2 separate regions of the Homo sapiens genome follow, and region 2 is linked to region 1. Evidence: fine-mapped expression QTL. Tissue or cell type: lung. Region 1 holds a variant in brackets; the other region holds the start of a gene. All regions are shown on one strand. Distances are from middle to middle.

Region 1 (7,780 bases):
CAGATGTCACATATGGTCACTTTTGCCATACTTTTATGAGTCCAAGCAACACAAGATTCAAGAGGCAGGGGCATAGAGCCATATCTTTTTTTTTTTTTTTTTTTTGAGACAGAGTCTCACTCTGTCACCAGGCTGGAATGCAGTGGTGTGATCTCAGCTCACTGCAACCTCCGCCTCCCAGGTTCAAGTGATTCTCCTGCCTCAGCCTCCTGAATATCTGGGATTACAGGCATGCACCAACATACCCAGGTAATTTTTGTATTTTTAGTAGAAACAGGGTTTTACCATGTTGGCCGGGATGGTGTCGATCTCCTGACCTCGTGATCCGCCTGCCTCAGCCTCCCAAAGTGCTGGGATTACAGGTGTGAGCCACCGCACCCAGCCAGAGCCATATCTTAATGGGAGGAGTGCCAAAAAATTTGTGGCCCTTTAAAAAACCTGTCATGGATAAGTCAACAAAATTTTCTTTTTCTAAGGCTTAGACTACTCTGTCAGATATCTGATCCTGAATGGAAAGAAAGACACTAACTCACCCCACTCTCTTTTCACTCCCCTTCTCAGAGAACAGGAGGCTGCAGTATCTGAAGTCAAGCTTGTTCTGATACTACACTGTATTTCTTCCTTTTTGTCCATTTATGAGGAAGGCAGACACATTGCCCCACTGGGAGTTTTATATCACCCAAGCTGCAAGCATCTCTGAAACATAAAAACAACAAAATATTACTCTGTCTATCACACATGCACATCGCGAGGCCTCAAAAACATCTTGCTTTACTCCCACAACTGATCCCAGACAGTTTGCTTAGATGTCAAACACAAATACGATTCATAGACCTTATTTGATCTACTTGTCACTAAGCTTAAAAACCACACAGCACAGTCTTGATTTTTGCATATATCGTAATACGTCTCTTAAAATGTGTGATAAATTTTTGTGTAACACATTCTGTTAATGAATGCTTATTTTTCAGTTAACCATTTAGCTCTCAAAAATTAGAGAAAAATTTATTTTAACAAAAAAAGCAAGACTTTTTAAAAAGTTTCTTTATCTGTGAGGTTTTTCTTGGTAAAAGAATCCATGACTCTTGGAAAATTTGGTAAGGGTTATACAACTTATGTTTTTCTTTACATAAATATTCCTACATATCTGAGCTCAAAGCATTAGTAAATGTTTGTGTGATATAAAAACTGATCCTAAAACCTGTTTTCTATTAATATTCTAATTTTTCAGAGTAAGGAAGGGGTGGAGCAAGGCAAATAAATCGTGAATGATATGGGCTGCAATGGTAGACAAATGACAAATAGGGATGTCTCCTGCACCTGGCTGGAATGGCTTTCAATCCTTAATCATATTGACAATAGTGGCTGCATGGTGGCTCATGACTGTAATCCCACCACTTTGGGAGGCTGAAGCAGGAGGATTGCTTGAGCCCAGGAGTTCGAGACCAGCCTGGGCAACATAGTGAGACTCCATTTCTACAAAAAATACAAAAATTAGATGGGTGTGGTGGTGCGTGCTTGTAGCCCCAGCTATTCAGGAGGCTGAAGTGGGAGGATCACTTGGGCCTGGGAGTTCTGCAGTGAGCTATGATTGCACCACTGCACTCCAGCCTGTGTGACAGAGGTAGACCCTGTCTCAAAAGAAAAGAAACAAAACAAACAAACAAAAACATTGATAGTAGCTACTAACACCAGCTACTGCATGGTAGAGTTTGAATTTGAATCAGATCTGATCCCAAAGACTCTGCTCTTAATTTTTATGTCATTTTGTCTCACCAACCTAAACATAATCCAAACTTGTATATCATTACATTGCTTATTGATTTATATTGATTATATAAAAGATATCTTGCTGATTGAATGAGAAGAATATGAGAGACATAGGAGAAAAAAATCACATGTAATGACTACAGATTTATTCTGGAGTTAACCTGTGAGGGAGAATTATTATATTCAGTTTTTAGATAACAATGTAGAATCTCACAGAGCTTAAGTAAATGTCAGTGTTTCTCAGTCATCACATGTTGGGGCCTGAGACCGAAGCTCTGATTTCACCCACTTCACACACTGTCCTTTCCCTCTATATCATGCCAAGAATAGTAATGCTATGACTGTTTCAGATATTCTGTAGCTCAGCAGTGACAGAAACTGTGAAACTGAAATTACTTACATTATTTGATAAGCTAAACCCAAAATTCATGAGGAAGAGAATAAGTAAAACAAACAAACAAACAGAAACCCAGACGTTTATAATGGACAAATAATTGTTCACTCATATTTGTTGTCCTTCCTGGAGGTGACCCTCCCAGTGGGAATATCACATATTTTTGCTCCATTAATTCAGGAGTGGTCGAGTGATTTTCTTCAGCCAGTGAGATATGGGTAGAAGTAATGAGAGTCACTTCATAGCAAGAGCTTTAAGGGTTGGCATTTGAGTCACATTCCCTTTTTCTCCACATCTGAGATCATGGAAGAATGTGTTTAAAGGGAGCTTTCTACTGCTCCAGTCCCTACAGTATAATAATGAGCAGAGTCTACTTCCTGGCTAGTGATGGGCGCATGGCATGAGTGAGAAACAAACATAGTTGTTAAAAGCCGTTGAAAGATTTGAGTTATTGGTGACTTCAGCGTGACCTTGCTGTAGCAGATGTTGTTAGTGTTACATTCTAATCCCTTAAGTTTCCTTTCATCGTTTCTGTGTTAAGCCCTATGTACCTTTGTGGTCAGAGATAAAGAAAGGCCAAGGTTCACAGGAGAGAGCCAGTGTGGATGCGAGAAACACAAAACCAGAGAGGCGAGGTGTTAGAAAAGCAGTAATGGAGAGAAAGTGAGAGACAGAGAGACACAGGAGGCCCAGGAATGCAGACAGAAAGCTAGAAGGAATAAAAGGTAACCCAAGAGAAGCAGCAGAAGTGACAAAGAAAAGCAGAAATTGTGAGCAGAAGGAGGGAGGAAAGGCAGGCAGGACACGGGACTGAGCATGGCCAGAGGCTGAGCACAGAAGCCAGTCTAAAGCACCCCTGTGAGGCTTTCTAGATGCCCCTCTGCTGAGAACTCTCACTCAGCCACATATTTCCAGCTTTCAGCAGCAGCAGCAAAGCCATTCAATTCAGGAAGCAAGGGGAGCCAGAACAGAGAGACAATAAGATCCCTTTGGGGTGACCATCTGCTACATGTTTACAATGGCTGAAGGCAGAAAGGGAATCAAGATATTTAGATTCAAGCTCTGGAATCCAGGCAAGACCCATTGGATGCTGCTGCTCTGACAGTCCCTGAAAGATGTGTGTGGTATGTGGATTGCACTGGACTTCTAGCTCTGCTTCTTAAAATGCTGTGACTATCCTAGTGGACCACCCTTCCCTGACATGACTCACTCTTGTATGGGGGCTGACGGCACAGACCTTGGACCGTCTAGGTTTATATCCTGGCCCTGTGAATTGCCAGTTGTATGACCTTGGGCTGATACTAATCCTCTTGGAGTGGAATTTTCCCCAGATGTAAGATAAAAAATAGTAGAGCTAGCGTGAGCATCAAATTGGATTATGGCTGCCACATAGGAAGAGTTCAATAACAGCAGTTTCCGCTGTTGTTATTGGCATGGAAACTTCATTCTCATCATCTCCCCTTCTAACCCAACCGCCAACCACACTTCTTTAACGTGAAGGTGATGGGTTTGTGTGTGTGCGTGTGTGTGTGTGTGTGTGTGTGTGTGTTGATGCATCTATGTATGGGTCCAGCAGTGTGCTGGCTGCACACTTTAATTATAGTTAACTGAATGAATACCTTTAGAGATCCATAAGTAGTAAATAAAATCAGAAATGAGAGCACACAAATGAAGCCCTGAGAAGACACATGTTAGCTGTCTCTCTGGAACCACAGGTATTTCCTAGAACTGTATCCTGGCCATCAGCAATGACATCTAATCACAGAAGTGGATCTATCTCCCTAAGCAGTAAGCATGCAACCCTCTCACTAATCTTAATGCCAAGTCTAAACTCATCTTGACTAACCGAAACCGAATCCTTATAACTCATTCATTCTCCAGACCCAGCCAATGCATCTTAATTCATAAGTCCAGCATGGCGAGCTTTTCTTATTAGGTCATTTACTTCGGCGGCTTCCTGACTGTGGTACCCAGATTTTGACACGGAGACATAAGCCC[C/T]TTGGGAATGGGGCAAGCAACCCTGGCCCTGCTTTGCAAGTGACTCCACAAGTTAGAATCTGTCAGCAACTTTCATTGAGTCTGTGATGAAGAGACTTACTGTTTCTCCCTATACAGCCCAGGGCAGCAGTATCCATGACTGATGTCAGGCTGGAGATAGCATGGAGGTGGCAGGGAAATCCAATGAGAATGATTCTCTTGCTGTTCTTTGCTCCCAGGGATGATGGTGCTGTTCACCCACTCTGTTTTGAAACCTTTGGGTCTTGCTGATTTTAAGAAATGAGCTGGGCCAAATGGGAAACTTTAGACTCCAGCAGGGTGCTCCTTGTGGGAACAAGGGAAAGCCAGGAGTCCTTTGGGTTGTACAACGCTGATGCTTAAACTAACAATGGGTACAGTCAGACAGCAACAAGAGGCAGATGAGGACTGGGTCCAGCACCTCAGTTGTGTGTGTGTGTGTGTGTGTGTGTGTGTGGTGGGGGGCTTTGGAGTTCGACCTGGGTTTGAAATGTAACATTTACATAGTAGTTGTTGACTAAGCATTCATTAAGTAAATGTAACGCAGATAAAAATCTGGAATTTTATTCAATAAAAAATCCCCAATATTATGGGGATAGTAATGCCTCCCTCATAAGGTTAATTTCAGAATTAAATAAAACATGTTATGTAACACACTAGTACAGGTCGTCTTGGGGTATAGAAGAGCATGGTAGATGTTAGTAAGCTGACAAGAGCAAGCTAAGTTTGTTTAGCAATGCTCTTCTCCAGCCCTTTCCTGCTGTCTGGCCTCACTATCCCAGTGTTACAGGATGGAGGAGAGTCTGAAGCTTCAGGATCCCCAGCTGTGAGGTCCCCTTCCCCCTTTCTCCACTGCTCAGTCCCAAGGGGCTGTGTCTCCCTGGCACTCCAGCAACCATCCCAGACACTGACGTTGTCATAAACTGCACACTTACGCTCATGGATCCTCTTCATCATGTCCAGAGGCACATTTACTTATCATTATTGATAAGGACATGCCACACTCATTGCTGAGGTATTTATTGAGCTTTTACTGTGTTCCAGTATGTAACTTATTCACCTTAAAGCATCTGTCTTTGATTATAAGACTGCTGATCTTCAAAAGCACATTTGTGAGTCTCAGAATCTCAGGGTTGCCAGGATTCTTGAAGGTCACTCCACTCAACCTACTGGTGCTTCATTCCCTGCTGACAACAGCTGACTGCCTCCTGTAGAAGGGTGGTCTAGGAGTTCCCGGTCACTCATGTCAACTCAGCTAGTAAACTGCAGCATGACCTTAACAAGTCACTCGATTTCTGAGTTTCAGGCTTACAATATGTAAAACGAAGTGTTGGAAAACATTATCTTTCCATTGCTGATATTCTTTGGCCCTTATTAATATCATAGTCATTCTAATCTCTTGTTTCTCCACATCCAAATATGGATGCCCTCTGTGTCCCAACCCAGATAGAGGAGGAGGTATTTTTTTTTTGCCATGGCAGGCCTCTAAGTTTGTTTTTTGGGGGCTCTCTCTCTCTTCTCCCTTCCTTGTCACCACCTTCCCTTTGTCCTAGAAATATGTATTACATTCACAGAATATCTGGAAAAACCAAAACCCTGGATCTATACCTTATGCTTCCAAAAAATAATAAATTCCCGATGGCTCAAACAGACTTAAATGTAAAAAGTAAAAAATGGGATTTTTTGGTTTGTTTTTAATTTCCTTGGAGTATGAACATAGGCTTTTCAAAGGAAAACACGGATCCCGGGAGTCTAAAAGACTGTTAAGTGTAACTGCCTAAGGATGAAATATTTATGCAAGATAGAAACAAAACATAAAAACAGAAACATGAAATAAAGATTTGTTTGATTTATGCAAAATGTTCTCTTACAAACCTGTACATTCATTAAAGAAAACTGCAAATGATTTTTTAAACATGAAAAGAACTCAATCTCACTGTAAATTAAAAAAACAAACTTTAATAAGAATTGTTTTTGAATAACTGTTATTTTTTAGACAATGTACTGAAGATACAGCAGTAAACAGAGTGGACATGGTCTCCCCACTATGGAGCATATTTGATGAAGACCGATGTTACCATACGCTATAAAACCAGGTAAACACACACACACACACACACACACACACACACACTTACAAAATAGTGAGTTGTTTTGAGCAAGAAACTACGTGGTTGTCTTAGATCTGGGAGTGATGAGGGAGAAGATGTTTGGACAGACCTGTGATGAGGTCACAACAGAGGCTTAAATCCTACGGGGAGCTCTGAGCTAGGACGGCTTTCCAGAGTTGTCCTGAATTGTGCCCAGAGTTGTCCTGAACAGAAACTTGGGGCCTGGGCATTATACTTCTGCATCCATAGGCCATTGGATGCAGGCTACCTTAGAGGAAGGGCTATAATCTTGGGGAAGGTGTTTCTCTTTGATTGGGAGCAATTTGGGGGTAATTAGCATCTTGGTTCTGAATGGGAGTCCGGGCAGCGCACTGCAGCATTTACTGTAATATCTGGAAAGCCCCTGGCAGGGAACCTGAACATGGATATGTCTGTGAGGTTATGGGAAGCATCTATAGGAGTAATCATTAACTGGTATCTGGTGCTAACTAGGCACAGCATGGTGGGAATCACAATGAGCACTCTGAGAGATGGAGCAGCGTGCCATTACAGGAGCACAAAGGATGTCAGTGTCACTGAGCAGAGGAGTGACACAAGATGACATTAGAGAAAGGTATTTCTAGAAATCATGCAGAGCCTCACAGGTCTCAGGACTTTAACCAAATGGCAGAGAGAAAGGTTTTAATCCGGGGAGAGACCTGATCTAGTCTGTGTTTTAAAGGATCACGCAGGCTGCTATGGGGAGAACAGAGTAGACAGAGGGAAGCGAGGGTAGATGTGAAGGTCAGTTAGGAAGTTTTGTGGCAGGTCAGTAAGGTTTGTTCCTTCTCATTTCCTGTTTTGTGGGTAATGTCTCTGCCACTGGGGTAATAATCCTATCTCTAATAACATACATTATTAATGCAACCCTATATAGTGGATAGGTAATAACCCTATCTGTTCTACTAGTTTGCCAGAATGTCCTTTTCTTTCTCTGGGCCATGATGACTTCTCTTACCTGTGTCCGAGTATACTTATGTGGGAAAGTCAAACATAGACATGGAATGGCCTTGAGCTTAAGGATATTCAGCAAACACTTCTACTCACTTGTAAAATCATTAATCTAGGATAAGTTTATGTACTAGATCTGGTGTGGACTGTAATGGCCCATGATGTTATCTAGAGAGAACTGATTCAGACAAAAATGTTAGCTTTGTGGAGGAGTTCCATCCAAAGAGTCATGAGTGGAGAGTCCTCATGTTGGACTGAGAGGCTCAGGTCACCATTAAGAAGAAAGCTTGAAAACTAGCTCCATGGCTGGGCGCGGTGGCTCACGCCTATAATCCCAGCACTTTGGGAGGCCGAGGCGGGCGGATCACAAGGTCAGGAGATCGAGACCATCTTGGCTAACACGGTGAAACCCCGTCTCTACTAAAAATACAAAAAATTAGCCGGGCGCGGTGGTGGGCACCTGCAATCCCAGCTACTCAGGAGGCTGAGGCAGGAGAAT
Region 2 (7,780 bases), 78 kb after region 1:
AGGTCTCCAGATCCTTGCAGCATTTACTCTTGCTCTCTTAGAATCTAGTTGCCATGGGAACTAGCCCAAGCTAGCCTGCTAGAGGGGCCTCATGGAGGAGATCTGAGGCACCTTGGCCAACAGCCCCAGCCAACCAAGAACCATGTGTGTGAGACCATCCTGGACTAGGTAGCCCTGAAATGGCCTGCTATGTGAAACCAAAGATGCAAATGAGCACAGAGGATACTTCAGCTCTTCCTAATTTGCCAATCCATAGAATGGAGAGCCAATTTTTTTTAAGCCACCAAATAAGGGGTTGTTTATTATGGAGTAATAAGTAACTGGTACATTTGCTAAGAGGGAGACCACACAGCTTGTCCCATTCTTTTGTTTCTCATTGTTCCAAGTGAGACATTTAAACATAAGAATAAATGCTTGCTGGGCACGGTGGCTCATGCCTGTAATCCCAACACTTTGGGAGGCCGAGGCGGGCGGATCACCTGAGGTCAGCAGTTCGAGACCAGCCTGACCAACATGGAGAAACCCCGTCTCTACTAAAAATACAAAATTAGCCAGGTGTGATGACACATGCCTGTAATCCCAGCTACTCGGGAGGCTGAGGCAGGAGAATCGCTTGAACCTGGGAGGCGGAGGTTGTGGTAAGCCGAGATTGCACCATTGCACTCCAGCCTGGGCAACAACAGCAAAACTCTGTCTCAAAAAAAAAAAAAAAAAAAAAAAAAGAATAAATGCTTGTTCCTCTAACCATTGAGTTTTGGGTGGTTTGTAACAAAGCATTATTATGGTAGTAGTTGACTAAGACCTTGGTTTTAGCAAGAACTTATGTAAATTTTCTTGAGGAAACATATGTTGAATTGACACAACTTATTAGAGTCTCTGTATTCAGAGTACTATCTTCAAAACCTGTTGGATTAGGAAGAAAAATGTGGTGGCATGTAGAAAATACCAAAAAGAAAATAAAAAAGGACAAAGATCCTCCTTTTGAGCTGTTTCTACCCATACATAATTAAAACTCCAGACTTCTGAGCATTTTCTTCAAGTTTTTGACATATTCAAGTACCAATACAGCTATTATTTGTTTAGTATATTTTAGTTGATTTAATAAAAATACAGAGGCTATGTATTTTAGTCTTCTTAGAGTCATATATCTATAAAAGAAAAATGTATATAAAAATGAAAATATTGGACCAGGTGCAGTGGCTCATGCCTGTAATCCCAACACTTTGGGAGGCCAAGGCCAAGAGATCGAGACCATCCTAGCAAACATGGTGAAACCCCGTCTCTACTAAAAATACAAAAATTAGCTGGACATGGTGGCGTGCACCTGCAGTCCCAGCTACTCGGGAGGCTGAGGCAGGAGAACCGCTTGAACCCAGGAGGCGGAGGTTGCAGTGAGCCAAGATCACGCCACTGCACTCCAGCCTGCTGACAGGGCGAGACTCAGTCTCAAAAAAATATATATATATATTATATATATTATATGTATAATATGTATTACATATATAATATATATAATATATATATAATATAAATATATATATAATATATATAATATAAATATAAATATATATATAATATATATAATATAAATATATATTTATATATATACACACACACACACACACACACACACACACACATATTGAAAGAGGTCCATCTACTTATCACTTAAATTATTTCAAAAGCCACTTTGTGGTATACTGAACTTACAAGCTACTCTTTCCCAAAGGAGCTCCCCAATTCTCAAGTATTGCTTCCTTTGAAAGAGCAATCAGTGCACCCCAAAACCTGCCCCCCATGATCTGTTTCTCCATCATCTTCTGGGCAAAGTCCTCAACATTGCTTGTGATGTCAAGGCTTACTTCGGTTCACTCAGAACTGGGTTTATTGTTCTTTAGGGGGTAGCTTCTTAGTGGCTATCACTGCAATCGAGTGATCTTAGAAGCAAATTGCCAGTCATGTGCACACTTGAGAGTGTCACAATAGACAGATTAATGTCCTGTCCTTGATTTTGATACCACATCCACTGTAGATGGCAGCTGATTATGGATAGAACATTGTGGCAAAGGCCATGATCTTCAGATGATGAAACTGGATGTTAGAGAGTTTGAGAATACTAGTCCCCAAAACTGTCACCTCACAAGGCCAAGCAGTGAAACATAGTTTAAAAAGAAGAGTTTAGATGAAGGAAGATGTTTACTATGAAGAAACTTCCAAAAAACAGATACTTAGTGACTGAGAGGCTCAATGGTTAAGGCTTTGGTTCAATTCTCGGTTCTGCTAATTATTAATTTTGTAACTTTGAGTAAGTTCACTGTACTTTCATATCTCTCTGACCGCTCATCTATAAAATGGGGAAAATAAAAGCTGTTATTTCCCTCAGAAAGTTGCTGTGAAGACTGAAGGAAAATGTACAAGCAAAACATTTAGCACATTCCTAGCACAAAGAAGGTGCTCCGTAAAAAGTGGTTATTTTTATTATTACCAATATTTTATTTTGATACTATTATGGCATGAAACAAAACCTCCTGGAATTAAAATAAACAGACAGGACAATTGAGGGCAAGAAGGAGGCAGCATCCGAAAAGATAAATGTGGTCCATGTGCCACAGCTGTTAACACACCTCTTCTCGGGGCTTAGATCTGAGTGAAGGCTGCTGCACTCCCGTGACTGGGTATGGCTGTGCTGGTGATGACTCACCATGGAGTAGGATATGGGTGATAAGAAGAAGTCCTGCTCCTGAGACAGCTCCCAGGATGGAGGTTGCTTGGCCTTCAGGAGGAGGCTGAGTAGGAATGGTGGACCTGGCAGCTGTGCTGCCCTATCCCTGTGGCTGGCTCAGCTTCTCTGACAGGGAGAGAACCTAAGTCCAGGCTGTGGTGGCTGTCCATAGGCAAATGTCACAGAGCACACTCCATCTTCAACTTTCTCTTATCAAATCTAAGTGGTCTCCATTATCATCTTCCTAGGGAAACATCAGCTCAGGGGCTTTGATTGATAGAAAAGGAGTGAGGAAGGGAATATGTGTGAAGGAAGCTAAAAGCCCATGGGGAGAGTATTGGACTTTCTGTGGAAGGGAAGTTTGAAGAGGAGGCACCATCAGGGTGTACCCACACAGACCAAACACCTCTAGAATCCTGAGTCAGCTTTTTCCCCTCACTCTGATTCCTACTCCCCCCTTAATCAAAATTCCATTGTTCGCTGGCATCACTATTCCCCTAGTCATGCAGAAATGCAACTTGGAGCTCCTCTGTGGCTCTATCATAAACCCCTCCTCCATTCAATCCATTGCCATGACTTTATTCCATACAATTTTTCTTTCTACGCACTTCCCTCCCCTCTGCCATCCCCTTGGGCCGGGCCCTCCCTTCATCACTCCTGCAACACCAAACTAACCACTCTGTTTCTTGTCTTTTATCCAATCAGTCCAGATCCCCAATACCACACCGGCGTTTCTTAGATATTATTGTATCTTGCCACACCTTTCCTCAAAAGCCTTATTTTTCCCAATGCTTTCTTTTCTAATGTATGAAGTTCTGACTTTTCTTTATGACTTTCATGATACCCGACCAGCTGGCCCCAGGGGGCACAATGGCTTTACTCCACTTCTCCACACCCACCCTCATCCTGGCAAGTGCACCATGGCCCTAGCACAGTGCTGATGGAATCTGGAAATATCGCCAGGGGATCATTTGCAAGACTAACCTAATAAATTACATTATTTTTTTCCTGGGATGAGGAAACAAGGACAGAGTTGAAACACCTTCCCCCAGAAATGTGCTTGCCTCTCTCAGACCACAGGTAAGGGCTTAATATGATGTGAGAAAGAGGATTTCTGGCTTGGAATGCAATTCATTTCTATTAACATTTAGAAAGCATCTTGGGTGGGCAGGAATGAAAACCAGACACTGTACATGCTATGACATAGTTTTCAATCACTAAGGAGATGAAGAGGCAAGCTATCAGTGTAACAGAAAGCAGAATGAAAGAAAGAGGGGCTCAGTAAAGCCTTATTCTTTTGTAGAAGGCATGAGATCCTATGAGGTAGGCATAGGCAAGTATTACCCTCATTTTCCAGATGACAAAACTTGCTTACCTGCCTCAGAGTTTAAGTGGCTTGTTTATTGTCACAGAGCTAATAATTAGCAGATTAGGGTCTCCTAGCTGGGTGATCTTTTGAATGCATGACTTTGCCAGCAGCCAGCAGAGCTATGAAACACCGAGAGAAACAATTAAGCATGCTTGGGAACAGTGTGAATGGGCATGGAGCTGGGAGGCCTCCTGGGAAAGGTGGCATTTGACCTGGGAATTGATGAATCCCAGAAAAGCCAATCAGAGAGGTGTGAAAACAAAATTAAAATGGAGACTGGGCCTGAAAAATTCCCAGGCAAACAAAGCCAAAGACCTTAAAAATAGCCATATTCTTGCTAAAACTACAAACATAAATTAAACTTAACTTGGGTCAATTTCTGATAAATGCTTACAACAAATAAAACTTAACCCCAGCCAATGATAAGCAGCCAACTAACATATGATTATGTGACTAGGGACTTTCCAAAAAGTTACCTAAAAAATGCAATTATGTAACTGCAAACTAAGCAAATAATGTTTCATTTTGCTTCTATAACTTCCCAATAAATGCTTGCCTCTGACATTTTGTCATCGCAACACTAAACCTTTGTCGGTCTGGTGCTCCCCAATTCATGAATTGCTTCTTACTTAAATAAACTCTTTAAAATTTTACTGTGCCTCATATTTTTTTTAATACAGAAGAAATGAGAGAAGGAAGAATATTTTAGAAATAAAGGAACTTCATGGGCAGAGTCACAGTGCAAGACAAAAGGAGCAGACCAAGGGCAAGATTGCTTGGGGAGTGAAGACTCCCTCCCTCTTCTCCCCTGAGAAGCTGAGATAAAGGGGGAGGAGAAGCCTGGGTGCCCCCCACTGATAAGCAGGCTCCACCCAGAGGCCAGTCCTGTGTGTCTGGGGACAAGGCGAAAGAGCAGCAGAAGTGCCCCTTCTCCAGGATCAAGGAACTGGGGCGGGGGGTGTTTCCTGGACCCCAGTCCTCCGAATCAGCTCCTAGAGTGGAACCAGGAAGGATTCTGGAGCCACAGAAGATAGACAGATGGTAAGTCCCCTTTTGGAGTCAGAGGCTTAGCGGGGAGGGGTGAGGGTGGCTGTGTGCAAAAGTCCTGCCCCCACTGGAGGGGAGGGAATGTAAGGCTTACAGAGTAGAAAGGTGGGGAGAGAGGGAGGTAATGGGAGAGGGATCGAGAAATGGCACATTCAGGGGACAGGTTCGTTCTGAAGCCCATCTGGGAACACTGCTCCGAGATAAAAATATGTGTGTGGGGGCAGGGCAGGCAGCGAGGGTATCAAAATGGCCTGATAAAACTCTCTTCAATGCACCATTTCCTGAACCAGCTTCTCTCTCCTCCTTCTCCCTCCACTCACTTCAGGAAGGTGGGGACCAAAGTGAGGAAGAGCCGAGGGAACGCAGCCAGGCAGGTGGAATGGGAACTCTCTGGAGCCAAGAGGTAAGTGGCCTCCTCTCCTGGGTCTGGAATACACTGATGTTGTCACTCTCGGCTCTAAAATCCCACAAACACTCATCTACTAACTGTCTGCTTCATCCTCACCCAAAACAGTTGACATTCCTTGTTTTCTCATCTCCCAGGAGTTAAAGTAGGGCTGGGTTTAGGAAGAATTGGGATAATTATTTCTGTATAAAGGGACTGTAGCACCAACAGATTCATTCTCTCTCCTCTTCTTCCCATCCCTGTCTCTCAACCCCCATCTTGTATCTTTCACCTCTTGGTTCCTCCCACAGAGCACTCCAGAAGAGAGGCTGCCCGTGGAAGGGAGCAGGCCATGGGCAGTGGCCAGGCGGGTGCTGACAGCTATCCTGATTTTGGGCCTGCTCCTTTGTTTTTCTGTGCTTTTGTTCTACAACTTCCAGAACTGTGGCCCTCGTAAGCAAGATCCCAGACCCCCTAACCTAGTCAGCCCTCCCCCAGCCCTGGGGCCCAGGCCCAGTCCCTGCTCCTGGGGCTTCTGCCCACCCTGACCCTTGGGGTCCCCATGGTTCTTCTTCCTCCCTGCATCCTAACCATTTCTTTTTCATCAGCTCCCCACTTAGTTACTCACCTGATGTTCTTTGCCTAGCCCCTTGGGGGAGCCCTTGTCTTTTTGCCTCTTCTTTCCCAGCTCTGAGCTTTTCCCCACAGGCCCCTGTGAGACATCTGTGTGTTTGGATCTCCGGGATCATTACCTGGCCTCTGGGAACACAAGTGTGGCCCCCTGCACCGACTTCTTCAGCTTTGCCTGTGGAAGGGCCAAAGAGACCAATAATTCTTTTCAGGAGCTTGCCACAAAGAACAAAAACCGACTTCGGAGAATACTGGGTGAGGAAAGCAGGGTGGAAGATGCTCTGTGCAAGTGGGTGACTCTGTGCCTAAAATGACCATGACTGCTCCAAACCCTGTGTAGTTGTGGAACAACTGATTTGCACCATCCCAGGTGGGATTATACGGGTGGATGATTGGAGATGATGGGGGAGTAAAAGAGGCAGGATGGCGGGAGCTGCCTGGGTTTGCTCATCTCTCACTGTTTCCTGTTGCCTTGCCTTGGGTACCCTTCTTCCGTTTCTCTTGGTCCCTTTCTGCATTTTTTTCTTTATCTAATTTCCATCTTCTTTGCTTCTCCATGTATCCATAATTACTCCATTCTCTCCAACTTGTCCCTTTTAGCAAGCTCCATCTTTGTTGCTTCCTCCAAATGTTCAGTTTCTATCCTATGCATGGTGTTTTCCTCCACAAGCATCTCTTCAGCATCTCCTGCATTTCAATTCTTTTGTCCATCACTCTCATTCTCTAACCTCCAAAACCTCAGTCTCCCAATGACTCCTTGTCAACATTACCCTCTCCCTCTCACCATGCCGGAGCTCCCCTCTCTCACAATGATCTCTTGCTTCTTGCTTCTCCATTGAAACCTTGAACCATGGCAAGCAAGTTGACCTGGAACAAGTGGGATGTTAGAGATGGATGATTGGAGATGATGGATGATGGTGGAATGAAAGGGGTAGGATGGTGGGGTGAGAAGTGAGAGAGGGCTTCATCACTGTGCATAAGAGAAAAAGTGGGTAAGTACAAAGGATATGCTGGAAGAAGAGGAGAGCTGAGTTAATTGGCAGTGGAAGTAAAGTTCCTGCAGATGGAGGCTGGAGAGGAAAACTGCCAGGACTGAGAGGAAAACCAGAAGGATGAGCTGAAACTGAGTAGGAGGTTGGAAGTGCGTCCCAGGAAGTTGGTGGATGGTGGTGAGGATTTGGGAATAAGAACATATAAGATAGACATGCATTTCCAGTGCAAGGGAACCTAAAGAATGTGTTGACACTATCAATTAGAATCTGGGAAAAGTAAATGCACCCCTCTGCCCTCTTTTTTTGATGGGGAAAGAGTGGGAGGGGGCCTCTCTTTGGGTAAATGGATACTTTCAGGGAAGGCACAGAGATAAAAAGAAAAAATATGCTCAGGATAAATTATATTGCCTACAATGGGATGAATAGATATCAGGGGGACTGAGGGTGAAAAGAGTGTTAGATATTAGAGGGTGGATGATTCAGAGAGACTTGCATTTGATTATTGTAGTGTGTTTGTTTCCTGGGATCAATGGATGAGGAGTCTGGACTAGAAGAGTCTTCCCCTGTTTCTTCTCTTTGCTAAACCTTTCCTTATGAGTTTTCTTCTCTCCAAATCCTTAAAGTTCTCTAGTTCC

The links. PIP is the estimated chance that this variant, and not a neighbour inherited with it, causes the effect.
Region 2: KEL starts here. The variant in region 1 is fine-mapped to the expression of KEL in lung (TOPMed, PIP above 0.99).

The regions. Positions count from the first base shown.
Region 1 is chr7:143,037,888-143,045,667 of GRCh38, reverse strand. LOC105375544 (a long non-coding RNA gene) reads left to right here and starts at 4,736. Exons shown (of 2, transcript XR_001745395.1): 1 at 4,736-6,276. The variant C/T (reference allele first, on the strand shown) is at 4,163.
Region 2 is chr7:142,959,556-142,967,335 of GRCh38, reverse strand. KEL (Kell metallo-endopeptidase (Kell blood group)) reads left to right here and starts at 4,973. Exons shown (of 19, transcript NM_000420.3): 1 at 4,973-5,132; 2 at 5,464-5,541; 3 at 5,835-5,976; 4 at 6,232-6,408. The coding sequence starts at 5,130. RefSeq lists a cis regulatory region at 2,490-2,891 and a silencer at 5,014-5,209.